2 separate regions of the Homo sapiens genome follow, and region 2 is linked to region 1. A link means that fine-mapping ties the variant in region 1 to the expression of a gene that starts in the linked region. Tissue or cell type: whole blood. Region 1 holds a variant in brackets; the other region holds the start of a gene. All regions are shown on one strand. Distances are from middle to middle.

Region 1 (8,105 bases):
TTCCACTTATTACACTGAAGCCAGTGGGGCAGCCTGAGCAACATACTGAGACCAGTCTCTACAAAAAATAAAAAATTTAGCCGGGCATGGAGTATGCGCTGGGCTTGGCGGCATGTGCCTGTAGTCCAGCTACTTTGGAGGCTGAGGCGGGAGGATCCTTGAGCCCAGGAGTTTGAGGCTGCAGTGAGCTATGATTGTGCCACTATACTGCAGCCTGGGTGACAGAGCAAGACCCTATCTCAAAAAATAAAAGGAGCCAGCAGAGTGATTGCACTGCCACTCACTGAAGGTCTGAGATCCCCTTTTCCTCCCTCCCCTCCCCCTACTTTGACACCCTCTCAGGTCAAGAGTCCCACTATCTTCCCAGTTGCTCAAGCCTGAATGCCAGGATCCCTTCTGGCCCTCCCAGTTTACACCCCTCAGCCAATCCATCGCCAAGTCTGCCAACTCTACCTCTACAGTGTCTTGAGAATTAGTCACTGGAATGAGACTGCCAGAGTGTGAAACCTGGCCCTGCCTCTTCACTACTACTTGTTAGCAAATGATGTTGTTTCTCAACCTTTCTGTGCCTGAGTTTCCTCATCTGTAAAATGAGAACTGTGCACAGAAACCGTTGTACTGATGTAATTAATAATACTCCCTTTCTCTCTTGAAAGTGTCCTAGTTTGGATAAATTATATGGTCAACCTAACTGATATGAATATTATGAAACCTAATCAAGGTTCCCTCTTCAGGCAATACGCCCATCCCCCTGCTGGGAATATCACTTTTATCTCACTCATTAATGCAAATAAAAGTCTCGATCATCATTCATGTCAGAGCTGCCTTCCTTTGTCCATTGTAAGCGCACAGGGACTGTGGCCCGACCTCCCCCTGGTGCCCCCAGCCCTGCCCTGAGTCCTTCACTGGGAACCATCCTGTGTCTCACCCGCTGTTATACTGTCTCCCAGGGGCAGCCCATGGCTGATGACTGGCTGATTAGGGATATGAAGATCCAGCCCATTTACCGTAATTTGGGGCAACTCTGAAGGGCCTCCCCAGCTCCAGAGTTTCACATGGGATTGTCTGAGGTCTCAGTTGTACCACAGTGTGGGTCCCTTCTCTCTTCCCAATTCTATCTTCCTCTCTTCCTACTGGTGAATCCTTCGAGAGCAATACCCAGTAACCATTCTGAATCTGGTTCCCCATATTACAGTTCCTTTCCAGAGAACTGAATCTTAGACACTAATAACAATCTTGGTCAACATTTCTTTCCAGCGTGGCTGTGAGCAACTTGAGGTCAGGGCCCATGTTTTCTTTGCCTTCCCGGTCTTGGCAAATGGCACATAGATCGTGCTCATCTTAGGTTGGTTGAAGTGCCTGAAATGCAACTGGAAGGGCGAGGTGGTTACTACCCTGGGAACAAAAGAGGTAGATAAGTTAGAGACCTGGGTTAGGCACTTACCTCAACCTTCCTCTCCACCAGGAAGGCGGTCTAAGTCAGGTTGCTGAACACACACCTCCCAGAATAGGGGATGCAACATCAAGGCTGGCACAGCTCCTGCAAATGTGGGGTTGTGTCTGTGTTATGGGATTTGATGCTATTGCCTGCGCTAATAGAAGAGCCAACCAAAAGTAGATTAAACTTTAAAGGCATTTATCATCTCAGATAGTAAGAACTCTTGAGGCAAGGCAGCTAAAGGGTTGTTTAGTCCTGTGGTTCAATAATGAGGATCCAACTCCTGTCTGCTCTGCCTTTTTTGACATGTTATCTTTAGTCCTTAGGCTTATCTCCTCATGGTCGTAAAATGGCAGCCATATTTCCAGACATTACATTTTCACCTGTTAAGGCCAACACAGAAAGCCATTTCAGCCACTGACAACTGCACACATGAACTTCCCCCACTCAGGACCCTCAGGTGACTTAGATACGGGCTCCCTCAGGGGCCCTAAAGTTAGGTAGTCCAAATGTAGAAAGGACAGGAACAACCCACTTCTATAGACCCCACAGGCCCAGCTTCCTGGGTGAGTGGCCTGGGCAGCCCCACAGGACCCCTTGCTCAGTAAGGCCTAGTGCTTGGATTAAGGCTGTGCTGTGGCTGTCTTGAAATTCTTAACACTTTTATCTTTGAATCTGTTTGTAAGTGAAGTCTGATGGGACACTGGAGCATGACTGTGACCCGAGGAGGGAAGTGCAACGTGTGTGTCTCTGTCCCTTGCTGCTCCTTGACACAGTGTTCAAGATGCTCTATGAACCCACGATGCGTCAGTGATCGGTAAGACTCAAAGTGAGCACAAGGTAAGTGTGTTACAGCTACGACTGAATAGGGGGCTCTGCCACCCCCAAGGGGTCACATTTTCTTTTCATATCAGAACTTGCTTTGAAAGCACAAAGTAGGCAGTGGTGTTCTAAGAAACAGGAACAATCAAGGCATCTTGTCATATCCATTCTCATTCATGTTGTTTCCCTGTATTGACCAACCATATAGGGTGACGATGATGGCATAGAAAGACAAGGAAAGATGGTCCCTTTCCTTTCGGTCCTGCTTTACTCCTCAGGAAGATGAAGGTAGAGTTTGGGTAGAATGTGCCCATAGCAAGACATGAAGGGGCTGGGCATGGTGGCTCATGTCTCTAATTCCAGCACTTTGGGAGGCCGAGGTGGGAGGAACACTTGAGGCCAGGAGTTTGAGACCAGCCTAGGCAACACAGCAAGACCCTGTCTCTACACACACACACACACACACACACACACACACACACACAATTGAATTAAAATAGTTCAGCTAATTTGGTATTCTGTCTTAGCTGTACTGGTAAGAACAAATACATATGTATATATAAGCTACAAAATACAAATTGCATAATATCAGTGATTCCGCATGTAAGTTAAATGTCTCTATTTGCATTTAAAACTGGAAATGCACAATGTCAAGATGAACAGAATTTATGCTAATCATTTAACATTTTAATTTTTCTTTGCTTACAAAGTTAAATAGCAAGTAAAAAAAAAATTCCATGACAGAGAGGGAGAGAGAGAGAGAGAGAGAGAGGAGAACAGCTTTATATTTTAGTACCTTTAATGGCATTTTTCTCCGTGTTTTTATTTTGCAGTGGTGCAGATGCTGGAAGTCCTTTGAAGAAGTGATCCACAATGGAATGAGTGTCTGGGACTTAGGCAGTAAGGTCCTTGGTTCTGGAAGATTTCAAACAGCAATTAGAAGATGTCTATAAGAGATGCGGTAGAAGATTCCTGACATGCGTACAGTGATCCTCAAGACTCCCTTTAAAGCTAATAATTCCATAACTTTTAGTGGGGGAGTGACAGGTCCACATTCCCTTCTCTGATACCACTGGGACCAGATTATTCCAGAATTCAGGACTTTCATATCTTATAATGTATGCATATAACTTGCATTATGTAACACCCCTAGGGGAGTTTGGAAAGCACCCCAAAGCCCAACACACTAGTATCTCTGGAGAAAACCATAAGCAGGTGACAAACACAAACCATGAAAAGCCTCATGTTAGGTTTAGCTGGGAAACAAACTCAGGGAGGTCAGATTGTCCCACCAAATATGGGAAGTCTTTTGGAATTTGAAGCTTTTGGACTTTCAGATAAGGGATTATGGATCTGTTTGTGAACTCTTAAGTCATTTCACAGATTGGAAAAAAACAAAACAAAAATCCCAAACAATGTATACATGGAGGCACCTGAGATGTCTTTAAATTTCATGATGGGAAGAAAGAAACCAACACTTGTACACTGGTTTAGACCTGATGAAAGTGCTTGGGGCTCCACTGTCTATTAGACACTCACCGTGACCTTATGAACGAAGACGCATCATCTCCATCCTTTGGGGACAGGGAAACTGAAGCTTCCACAGAGCCGGCATCACATAGTACATGCTAGTGCCTGTGTGAGAACACACAGATTTGGGACTCCAAATATCAGGCTTTTTCTATAACCTCAAAAACCTCCTAAATGGTGCCCAGTGAATGTATTTCAGGCAGTGCTGCCATTCAGAGGGATGCCCCCATCTAGCTGTACTGAATGTTGGAGTTCTTCCTTTTAGGTGATATATCACCAAGGCCCTAAGTCTGTGGAGGCCTCTAGCCTTATCCTGCTGCCCCAGAGTGCCCCAGACTCTCCCAAAGTGTAGTAACTGTGCAAAGGGCAGACGCCTGGCAGAACAGGGACCCCAGGGGCTGGAGACTGTACCCTATTGTAGCTACATATTTGGAACATCACACCTACTAGAATTGTGCTAAGATACTGACCAGTCCTTGAGTATGTTGCCTTCCACCAAGAAGAGAGCACTCCCCTCCCCCAGAGATGTTCTATGTGTGTTTAGCTGGGAAGCTCTGCACAGCTGCACGCTGGTATATCCATGCTTGCCTGAGAATCACAGCTGCCTGGAGCTCTTGGGAAACACAGACTCCTGGGCCCCATCCTGACCTATTACAGAATCAGAATCTCCTGACACAGGCGCAGGTGTTTTGTGCACAAACGTTCCAGCTGAGTGCCGCCTAGAGTTGGGCAAGTTTGGAGATCACCGTGGCACTCCATTTACTTTGGTAAGAAGGATCTAATCAACCCATTCAAATTTGCAGAGGCAACAGTAAACAACTCTGTCTAGCTCTTCCACATAAGCACATTTAGAGACAAAATTTTCAGCTCTAATGGTTTCCACATTTCTTTCCTTGTCACTTCCTCCTTTTGTCAATGTCAATGTATATGTGTGTATTTCCAAGGATGCCATGCCTTGCCCCATGTCCTGTAGCAACCGGGCTGTGCCCACCCCACCCAGGCTGACCGGGTGCTCAGTGAGCACATTCTCCACTGTGCTTCACCCCACCCCATTGTGGAGATCTCAGAAACAGTGGGTTCCCCAGGTGACATTCAACCTCAGATGTGCATTTGTCACGCTCAGTTCTAAATTGGCTTGTTTTGGCAACCACCTGATGTTTCTAAATATGTGTTCTCCACAT[G/A]TCCTCTTGCCTGAATCTTGAGAAATCTACACAGGAACTGGTAGCCTAGCTACGGAGAGAAGGTTTTTTCCCCTTCCTTTTCCCTTTGAAGCTGCCTGTGGTTGCACCCAAACGCTGCAGATGCAACCATGGATGTGTGCGCTGTATCCTCAGCCAGCTCTGGGTCAAGAGCCTGCTTGGCGTTTTTATGTTTCCCTTCTTATGAAGGATAAGGAAATGTGGGGGCAAATGGAATCTCTGCTGGGGACATTTTCAGCCGCCGATGCCACCAAAAGGAAGTGAATTTCTTTTCTGTTTATATCTCAGGAAATAATCTGTCACATTTGAAATCATTTCAGAAATATCTACTGCTCATAAACTTTCTGTTCCTTCATCCCCTGATCTGTTGATTCTGTAACATTATAGAGGGAAGGAAGAATGGATTAAGCAGCATAAAATACCATAAGTTCCTTAAAATGAGGATCCACATTTTCTTGTAGAAATGAGCTGGAATCAAAGCCCAGCAGCTCATTGTAATTCATTGGCTGTGTGACCTTATAAAAGTTACTTAACTTCTCTGAATCTTGGTTTTTCTTTACATAAAATGGAGATAATAATTGTAGTCAATTGTAAAAATGGTCACAATCTTCCACTCCTCCCCAAATGCTCACCACTGGCAGTGGGCTTTGCAGTTCCTCCTATCAAGAAGTGATGTCCATTTCCCATTCCTTTTTAATTTGCTTTGGTCAATGGAATGATAGGTGCTGGTTCTGAGTCTAGGTTCTAGGAGACGCATTGCACATGTCTGTCTTGGAACTCTGCCCAGTTGCCATGCGAGAAATCTGGCCTGGCTTGCTGGAGGATGAGAGACACGTGGAACTGAAAGGAACCATTCCAAGGAAGGCCATTCTAAATCAGCCAGCCTCCAGTCAACCCAGCACTGGGTACAAAGGCAAAGGTGAACCCAGGTAAGGCTAGAAGTATCTCCTAGCTGAGCCCAATACAAACTGTCTACCTGCCAAATGGTAAGCTATATAAGTGGTTGTTTATTTAAAGTCACTAGTTTTGGAGTAGCTTATTATGCAGGAAATGCTAATATAATGTGCTTGTCTTTCAGTGCTGTTGTGTAAACAAAATTAGGTATCACACATGAAACACCTGAATCCATACATACCGATGAACAGAACTTGTTTGGATGGATTGCTAACCCAGCTGCATATCCATAAATTGCATACTTCCTGTGTGGAAGATGTAAGCATCAGTGTCCATAGCGTATATTGAAAAATAAATGCATTTCCCTATGAAGATATAATGACACCGTAGATAGAATGTTTAAAAGGAACCCATAAAATTTGCCTGTTATCCTACTGCCTCTACCATAAGGTTCAAATATCTTAGTAGGACTGACAAAATCCTTCAAAGTCATATTCCAGCCTCATCTGTCTTTTTAAACTGTTTCTACTCCTTGTTACCTCCATTCATAATAAATGACATCTGAGACATTCATTATGTAAAATTTCCTTTTAGTTTTGGTCCTTCCTATGGTTTGGCTGTATCCCCACCTAAAAAATCTCATCTAGAATTGTATCTCTCATAATCCCCATGTGTTGTGGGAGGGACCAGGTGGAAAGTAATTAAATCACAGGGGCATGTTTTTCCCATGCTGTTCTTGTGTTAATGAGAAAGTCTCACGACATCTGATGGTTTTATAAAGGGCAGTTTCTCTGCACATGCTCTCTTGTCTGCCACCATGTAAGACGTGCCTTTGTTTCTCCTTCCCCTTCGGCCATGATTGTGATGCCTCCCCAGCCATGTGGAACTGTAAGTCCATTAAATCTTTTTCTTGGCCAGGTATGGTGGCTCATGCCTGTAATCCCAGCACTTTGGGAGGCCAAGGCAGGCAGATCACCTGAGGTCAGGAGTTCAAGACCAGCCTGGCCAACACGGTGAAACCCCATCTCTACTAAAAATACAAAAAATTAGCCAGGCGTGGTGACACACCCCTGTAATAGCTACTCAGGAGACTGAGGCACAAGAATCTCTTGAACCTGGGAGGCGGAGGCTGCAGCAAGCCGAGATTGCACCACTGAACTGCAGCCTGGATAACAGCCTGAAACTCCATCTCAAAAACAAAACAAAACAGAATAAAACAAAACCTCTTTTCCTTTATGAATTACCCAGTCTCAGGTATTTCTTCATAGCAGTATGAGAATGGACTAATACAGTCCTTAAAGAAACAAAAAACTCAGAGGTGAAATGTGTTTTTTAATTAACGTTATGAGGTATGATTTACATGTGTATAAATTATAGTGTACAGACTGATGAGCTTAGATAAATGAATTTACCATATAACCACCATCTCAATCAAGATAAAAGCATTTCTGGCACCCCAAACATTTCCCTTGCACACTTTCCCAGTCAATTCCACTCCCATCAACAATCCCAGGCTACCATTGATCTGATTTCCATCACTACAGATGGATTGAGTCTGTTTTAGAACTTCTTAGGAATGCAGCCACATACCCTTTCCTGATTGGCTTCTTTCACTCAGGGTAATGTGTTTTTGAGATTGATCTATGTTGTGTGTATCAGTAATTCATTCCTTTTTATTACTGAGTCTTCCAGTGGAGGGCTATACTACAATTTGTTTATCTATTCACCTGTTGATGGACTTGGGGTTGTTTTCAGTTTCGGGGTTTTATGAATAAAGCTGGTAGAAACATTTTTGTGTGAGCATTTTTTTTTTTGGTGTGTGTGTATGCATGTTTTCATTTTGTGGGGGACTAAATACTTAGAAGTATAAAGGCTGGGTTATATGGTAAGTATATATTTAACTTTGTAAGAACTGCTAAATTGTTTTCCAAACGTCTGTACCATTTTACACTCTTGCCATTAGGGCATGAGTGTTCTATTAGGTTGGTGCAAACTTAATTTTGTTTTTGCCATTAAAAGTAATTTTTGCACCAAGAATAGTAATAGCCTTGCCAGCCCTCGGTATTAACTTTTTAATTTTAGCCACTCTTCTAGGTGTGAAGTGGTATCTCATTGTGGTTTCAATTTGCATTTCCTTGATGACTAATTATGCTGAACAGTTTTTCATGGACTTTTTGGCCATTTGTATATTTTCTTTGGTGAAGTCTCTTTGGTAGTCTTTT
Region 2 (8,105 bases), 87 kb after region 1:
AAAGACTAGCCAGCCATGGTGGCATGTGCCTGTAGCCCCAGAGACTCAGGCAGTTGAGGTGGGCAGATTGCTTCAGCCTGGGAGATTAAGGCTGCAGTGAACCATGATCGCACCACTGCACTCCATCCTGGGCAACAGAACAAGACCGTGTCTCAAAATAAAAAAGAATAATGATAATAAAATAAAAATGTACACAAACACAACCGCCTGGATGGATCAGAGGATGAAGCTGATCCACAGAGGGTCCCTGGCCCCCCCAGCTCTTGCAGGGGTACTGCGGTGACATGGAAGGATGGTCCTGCATCAGTGGATGTGGCTCCGCTCCTGGCCCTCTGTTTGCCGGCTGAGCCTCCCTGGCTATTCATTCCAAATCTCCCTTTCTTGATGATGGGAATAATAAAGGCACCCACCTCAACTACAGGTTTCCCACCTCTGGCAGGTGTGGCCTGGAGAGAGGGAGAAGCTCAGTTTTGGAGCAAGTTCCAAGGCTATGTCACTCTGGGCCCAAACATTTTAAGTTGCTGAATCGATACTGTGTTAGGTGACTTCCAGTGACCACATGAGTTTTTAATGGCCTAAGGGTGACCAGAGAGCCAGGGATCTGTTTCATCCAGGGAGGGAGAAGTGGGAGGGTGGATGTATCCTATAGGGTGGGCTTACACTCTGAGTCTCACCCTTCATTGACCACTGGGATCAGCTGGGGAATGCAAGGAAAGTGCTGGTGCCTGGCTCCCACCCCTAGAATCTGATGGGAGTATCGGAGGTGAGACCTGGGCAGCAGGACTCTTGAAAGCTCCCAGGTGATTCTAATGGCAACAACATTTGAGAACCACTGGCTTGAAACCACTCACTGCAGGGACGGGACAGTGCAAGACAAAAAGAAGGTTGAGCTTTTAGACCCGAGGCATGCTTTAACAGGAGAGTTACGCCATAAGAACAAGTGAAGGAGCCCTCCTGTCTCTGTTGTCCATCCCATTCCCCCATAATGAGTGCTGGCTTAGCATGCAGAACGTTCCTGAAATGTTCGCTCCCTTCCCCCAGCATGTGCCTCTGTGTCACTGCACTTCTTGGATGATGTGGGCTTCCCCTGGAGCAAGTGAGCATCCCAACGGGCCCAAGTGGAAGCTAAGGCTTTTTAGGACTTGGCCACAGAATGTCACCAATACTGCATTCTCTTCACCAAGAAAGCCACTAGACTTTCTCTTCACCAAGGACAGTCCCAGATTTAAGGGGAGAAGAATCAGATTCCAGCTCTTGAAGTGGTGGGCAGCAAGCATGTCCAGGAGGGAGACAGGGAATGCATGGCGGCTGTCTTTGAACATGCGTGATCCTGCCAATGAAACAGGGATTTTGGACTCAGTCCTAAAAGACTGTGATTCTCGCCTTGTCCCCAGCCCACTGGACATCCAGGTGGCCCTGTCCTCTTGGCCACTCCTGGCCTAAGAGAAATGAATGGCCTTTTTCACTGTTCACATCCTCCAGAGTCACCAGAGACTCAGGCACTGTGTGGAGTGGGGCTGGGGTGTTTCCAGGGTAGGGGAGAGGGCAACTGGGAGCCTCCAGGGCTCAGAAGTAAGATGGGGTCCACGAGCACACTCTCAGTGCCTGCAGCCTCTCTTACACTGTCATACAGCCACGTGTACTGCACCAGGGAGGGCACCTCTGTCTAAGAGGATTTGCCAGATAACTGGTGTCTACTCTGTACACCCAAAGAGGATATCTATTTAATGCTTAGCTTTTGAGTGGAAAATCTTTCTAAAATGGCTTATGTGTTCTGGGTCTTCTTAAGCCAAAAACAGGAATCACATTTAACAACATGGGGAAGAAGAAACGTGGGCTTGGAGTCACGTGGATCTGGTTTCACTGACTTAGTTAATCACACAAGCATGCATGCCCAGCCCCAGGAATCCCTCCAGCTTCTATCCTCTACAGGGGCTGAGGTTTTCCCAAGGGACTGCTTCAACTATATGCCATTCTCCTGCTCAATAACTTGCAATGGCTCCCACTGCCTTACTGATTAGATGCAAACTTCTCACCCCAGCAATCAGCACCTTCTATAATCTGGCCCTGGCCTCTGTCTCCCAGCCCTCCTGCACCCCATCCTCTAGCTTTCTGAAGAACTCTGTGAATATTTTCTGGACTTCGCTATCTCGATATCTCTCCACCTAGAACAGTCTTAACTCCCAGGCCCACCAGGAGATATATGCCTACAGTTCTAATCCATCTTCAGCCCCCATTCTCAAAGTCCTGATGATGACAGCTGTTCAGTGGCATTGGCATTTGACACTTTGAATTCACCATCTTCTCCTGTTAATGTCTTTTCATGAACATACATCTTGTCCTCATCCAATCCTCTAATAAATACTTGAGGACCTACTACGTGCTGGGCACCTTCTTCAACCCAGCCCAGCCCTTTAGCCATTCCCCTCTGTGTCTTAGCCGGGCCCATCATTTCTTGAAGCTTTTATAAACATGCAGAAAGAAAATCTACGTCCTATTCAAGTTTGTCCCACAGGATCCCTGTCCCAGTGCCTGATACGGAGCTTGTCACAAGGCAGGTACTAGACATTTGCTGAGCAAGTGGATGGATGCACCAACATTTCGCTGCAAACTGCCCCCTGCTGAGGGAAAGACTGCACAGAGAGACAGTGACTGTCACACACACCTGGTGGCCACAGGACACACCAGGAGCAGGGTCTGAGCACTTGCTCCAGCCAAGCACTGCGAAGTATTGCAGGTAGGGAAGTAACAGTTCCCATCCTTATGGGGATAATGGGATGAATCAACAGCAGAAAGCAATCTACTAGAAAGGCACAATAGTAAGCCCACTTCCCAGAGGGAAGAGAAGAGAGAAATCATTCTGAAATAGATCTGTCCTGTACCTTACATCGTATCTTTCTCAGGATGAAGCAATAAGGTGGAAAACCCTTTGCAGATACTCAGGCCCAGATGTGAAATCCAGTTCTCCTCCTTGCAAATGGCATGCTCTTGGGCAAATTATTTAATCTCGTTTAGTGTCCTGACCTGTAAAATGGGGCCTCCGTCATGGACTTGTAAGGATTTGCTGTGATAAAATATGCCAAGCACCCAGCGTCTGGCACATAGTAGGTGCTCAACAAACCTTAGCGTCTGTTCTCATATGTGTGGTACTTCATGTTTCTGTTCCTTGCAGCTAGCACAGTACTGCGCATGTAACCAGTGTCAAAAATGTGTCAAGGAGAATACATTGACCGAGTGGAATGTGAATTGTAAACAAAAAAGGAAAAATAGGAACCTGGTCTCTGGGCAGATTCTGCCTGAAGACGTTAAAAAGCCCTGTATTTATTTCGTCAAGTTGCCATGGCAGCAACTGATGCTCCAGCCAGCTCCAGGGTTAGCAGGGATCAGTTTATCTTGTTAACCATGGAAATTCCGGAGGTTCAGTGGGATCCAGAGGGGAAGGCAGACACAGTTCTTCTCCAGTCTAGAAATAAATCCTGGAAAGCCTCCTTAGTTTTCATGTAGCTAAAACCATCATTATCTAAAATGATGTTTACATGACAATTTTTATAAGTATGGATTTAGGCACAGGAGATGTAAAATCAGGCAAAAAAAAAAGGGCCAGCGATACTCAGAAGGGCAATTAGCATCATGGAAAACTTAAGGGGCTGCCGGAGAGCCAGGATCTAGACCCCCAGAACTAACTTGGGGCTTCCGCATCTTTTAAGCCTCCATTTGCAGACTCGCTGTCCACACACAGTCTGGATTTTGCTGTCACTTTTTAAACAGGCTTCCACTACAGGTGAAGCTTGGGGAAAAAGCAAGTGTCCCCTCAAACTTCGTTCCCTGTAAAAGAAAACAGCAGCAGATGGGGTCCCTGCCACACACCCTGGAGACAGAAGGGAGCCTGGGTGGCCTCCCGACCTCTCTGCTCCCACCATAACCAACCAACACAACCAGAGAAGGTGCAAGATGTGGCTTTGGTAGATTGGGACTTACTCTCCCAGGCCAAACGCAGCCCTTCCCTGGAGCCAGCTCTGGGTCTTCTCTAGGGTCACAGACTGATGGAGAAATCCGGGATTTGTCTTTGTTCTGGCTCAAGAGAGTTAAGGCACAGAAATAGAATCATCACCCAAGCTCAGAACTCCAGGGCATTCTGCCGGAGGAAAATTCAAGCTGTGAGAGATTTGTTTTTCCGGCCACTGGGAGCCTGTTTGTGTCGGGGAGGGGGGTGGGGGGGTTCTGGCCGCGCTGGGCACTGGTGGCTCCATCAGACTCTACACAAAGCAAAACAGGACAAACGACCGCGGCGCGTCGACGCTTGGCGGGTCACGGTCACAAAGCGGGTCTCAGAGCCTTCCTCAGGCGGCGGCAAAGGGGGCGCCCGAGGTCACCGGCAAGAGACAGATTACTGGCGCCTCGGGAAAACAGAGTGGGGAAGGGCGAGACTGTGTGCCCATCCACGTTCGCGCGGGTCTGAGCTGGCCCGGCCTTGGAGGGCTCCGGGACCCCAGAAGGGGGACAGCAGTGGGGGATGGGCAGAAGGGGGCGACTCGGGCTGCCCAGGCTCCTCGCAGCCTTCCTGCCAACGAGAGGGGCCCGGGCGGGAACAGCTCGAGCCGCGGGGGTGCGGGGCGCGCAGCCCGCCCCACCCCGGGAGAGCCGCGATCGCCGCCCCCGACGCGTGCACCAAGTGGGGGTGTCCGGCTCGGGACAAAGGACCGGGACGCGGATCGCGGGCGGGCGCCACTGCCCAGCCCCAGCGTGGAGGGCGAGACCGTGGCCCCGAACCTCCCCAAACTTGGCGGCCCGGGGCGCGTGGGGGGGACGCCCCGTTACCTGCGCGGCCATAAAGGAGAGATCCATGGTGTCGCTGCAGCCAGCGCTCGAGTCCTCGCTGCTGCCGCTGCCGCTGCGGGTCAGCCGCCTGCACAGTTGGCGGGGATCGGGCTGAGCAGCGAGCGTCCGGAGACCGCACGGCGCACTCGGCTGTCTCTGGGCTTCTGGCTCCAGATCTCTACTAGGCGGAGGGCCCCGAGCGCGGGGGCGGGCGGGGCGGGGTGGGGCGGGGCTCGGCGGACGGGGCGCCCCTCCACGTGACCACTCCCCGCCCCACCCCCGGGGCGGGGTCCGTCAGAAACCCCAAGCGCTCGCAATCGCCTCCCTTCGTGGGCGGGATGGGGAAACTGAGGCCCGAGGCCGCCCCGCTGGTTGGTGCAAGAACCAGCCTGCAACCCAAGTCCTGAGCTGTTGGCGCCCCGCCCCGTGCAGTTGAACCCAACCCACCCGGGGCTGTGGGCAGCGCTCTCTTGGGGCTGACACGTTATCCCGAGCCTGAGGACCAAGATCGGAGTGACCTGGCTTTCCACGCCAACGCTCCTCCCAGAGTCCGGTGTACTCCCGGCTCGGCATCTGGGCAGAACGAGGTTTAATCCTAGCCCTGCTTTGTTGTGCAGCTTGAGCAAGATAGTGTCTTTGAGCCTAGATTTCCTCATCTGTGAAAAGAGAATACAGAACCGAATAATTAAATGAGATAGGGAATATAGCACGCGGTGTCCTCAATAAATGAGAGCCCTAACATGGCTAATCATCCAATAGAGACGAGGCTGTGAGTGGTGTCTTCGAGGACCGCACGGTGCTCAGGTTGCACAGCGGGTACTCCATGGCTCTCAGCTCAAACCAGTATCGAAAATCATGCAGGTGCCACAGTTCAAGTAAGGGGAACAGAAGAGACGCCCACAGGGGCCCATTGCTCTGTATGTGTGTGTGTGTGTGTGTGTGTGTGTGGTGGACACCACAGACTTGGTGACACGTGGAGGCTTTGCCCTCCGGGGGCTCACTGGGAGGGAACCAGCTGTACTCTAAGGAGTCTCAGTGAGTACGACTGGTCCCTTTGGGTGATGTCTCTTCCAGGTACTTTACACTCATGGTCATCACGAGCCTCTGTGAGGGGCAGCCTGGGACTCCCAGACTTTGTCACAGGCAAGGAAGCTGTGGCACAGGGAGATGGAGGGGTTTGTTCAAGGTCCCCCGGCAGCTGGGGGCCCAGTAGGGACTGTGGCTATGGGAATGGGACCAGAACCTCACTGACCTACAGAAGGCTTTCAGTGTTATCTTTCCTGTAACTTTCCTTTCTTTTCTTTTCCTTCCCTTCCTTTCTCCCTCCTTTTCTTCCTCCTCTTCCTTCTCTCCTTCTCTCCCCTTCCCCCCACTTTTTTCTTTCTTTTCTCTTTTCACTTTTCCTGTCATGCTTGCCTCCTCCCTTCCTCCTCTGGTCTCTAAACCCTCCAGTTCCCTGGCCCTCCCTTCCCTCCCTGTTTTTAGCCAGTACTGCACTCACCACACCCATCATTCCTGCCACCTCCCAGCCTAGTCCACACGGGGCCTGCCCAAACAGTCCATGCCAAGAGCCGCCCACCTCCTCCCACCCTTCCTGTGGCCAATAGCAAAGCAGCCTGCCCAGAACTGCCCAGGGCTCCCCGTCTGCTGTAAGAAATATTATGTACACGGCATACTTCACAATAAAAGGGCGTATAGGTTGTGTGTGTGCAATTTGAAAAATAATATAGCCTTGCATAGGTTAAAAAGTGGAACAATAAAAAACAGTCGTGAAGTCCTACTGTGTATCTCTCCAAAGGCATCTCCTACCTGCCCCCTTTCCAGGGTCACCTCCATCCTATTTAGTATTCACTCTTGTCAATTCTCTTGCTTTTCTTTATAGTTTTACCTTTATAGATTACCTGCTTTAACCCTTTGTAGAAAAATTAAATTGCTCTAAATTTGCTCTTCCATGTCTTCTTTGTTGTTTTCTCAGCATTATTTGTGTAGTTGACGTATATTGTTTTTCAGTGCTACACAATATTCCATTTGTATGTCCTTATCACAGTTTTTATTGATGCACTAGCCCTTTGATGGATACTTTGGTCATCTCCAGGTTTTCTGATAACGCCAAAAAAAAATGCTGCTGTGAATACTCTCGATCTTGTCTTTGGATGCACAGGTGCAAGGGGTCCTCAGGGAATACGCTAGGAATGGAACAGTTGGGTATTGTGGTCAGCTCATCTGTGCTTTTACTAATTGATGCCCATTGCTTTCCAGTTTCTGATTTCCAAGGAGGCTTCATCCATTTTATTATCCTACCTATAGTAGGCATGGGTTTTTATTGCTCCACAATTGACCAACACTTTGTATTGTTAGGATTTTTTTTTAAGTTTTGCAAATATGATATGATGAAGTAGTGTTTCATTTGGATTTGATCCTCATTTCTCTGATTACTAATGACATTAAGCATCTTTTATACATCTATTGATCAGTTTCATTTCCTTTGATGAGAAATGCCTTTCACCAGGTCTTTTGTGCTTGTTTTAAAATTTTGCTTATTTTTTTATTGACTCAGGAAAAGTATATGTTTTAGATATTAATCTTGCTAGTTATAGGTTTTTAAATATCATCTTTCATTTTACATTTCTTGTCACTCTATTATACCTTTTCATGAACAGAAGTAAATAATTTTAATTTGGTCAAAATTTATTAATATTTTCTTTTATAGTTAGCCCTTGTTTAATAAATTCTTTGCCAACTTGAGACCATAAAGATAAAGATATTGTCCTGTAGTATTTTAGTAAAAATTTAAATACTTTTCTCATATTTCAGCCTCGTATAACTGATATATTGTGTGTGAGGCGGGAGTAAGGAAGCAATTTTATTTTTCTCATATTAATGTTCAATTATTCCAACCCCATATTGACTAGATCAGCTCTTTCCTATTGATCTGCAACACCAAATTTGTCAGGTGTCCATTTAGCCATCAGTCTGTTTCTAGGTTGTTCTGTTCCATTGGTTGTTCATCTGTCTAATACTAATGCTATTCTGATTTAGTTACTCTAATTTCATGCTAATTCATGTATGGGAGAGCAAGTTTCCTCAATGCGTTCTTTGTTTCCTTACTACCTTTCACTCTTTGCTCTCTGAATACATTTTAGGGTGACCTTGTCAGCTCCCCCAAATAACCTGGACTTGAAGAAAATTCTATTAACTTTTTTGGGGATAATTGACATCTTACAGATAACAAATATTTTCTTCAAGAACATGCCATATCTCCTTATATGCTTAACTTTTCTTTAGTA

Evidence for each region. PIP is the estimated chance that this variant, and not a neighbour inherited with it, causes the effect.
Region 2: it holds the start of C14orf132, and the variant in region 1 is fine-mapped to the expression of C14orf132 in whole blood (TOPMed, PIP above 0.99).

What each region holds. Positions count from the first base shown.
Region 1 is chr14:96,123,421-96,131,525 of GRCh38, reverse strand. No RefSeq gene overlaps it. Among named protein-coding and RNA genes, the nearest start is that of BDKRB2, 77 kb to the left of the region's middle. RefSeq lists an enhancer at 4,987-5,156. The variant G/A (reference allele first, on the strand shown) is at 4,972.
Region 2 is chr14:96,036,241-96,044,345 of GRCh38, reverse strand. C14orf132 (chromosome 14 open reading frame 132) reads right to left here and starts at 4,984. Exons shown (of 2, transcript NM_001252507.3): 1 at 4,819-4,984. The coding sequence starts at 4,845. RefSeq lists silencers at 4,875-4,924, 4,945-5,134.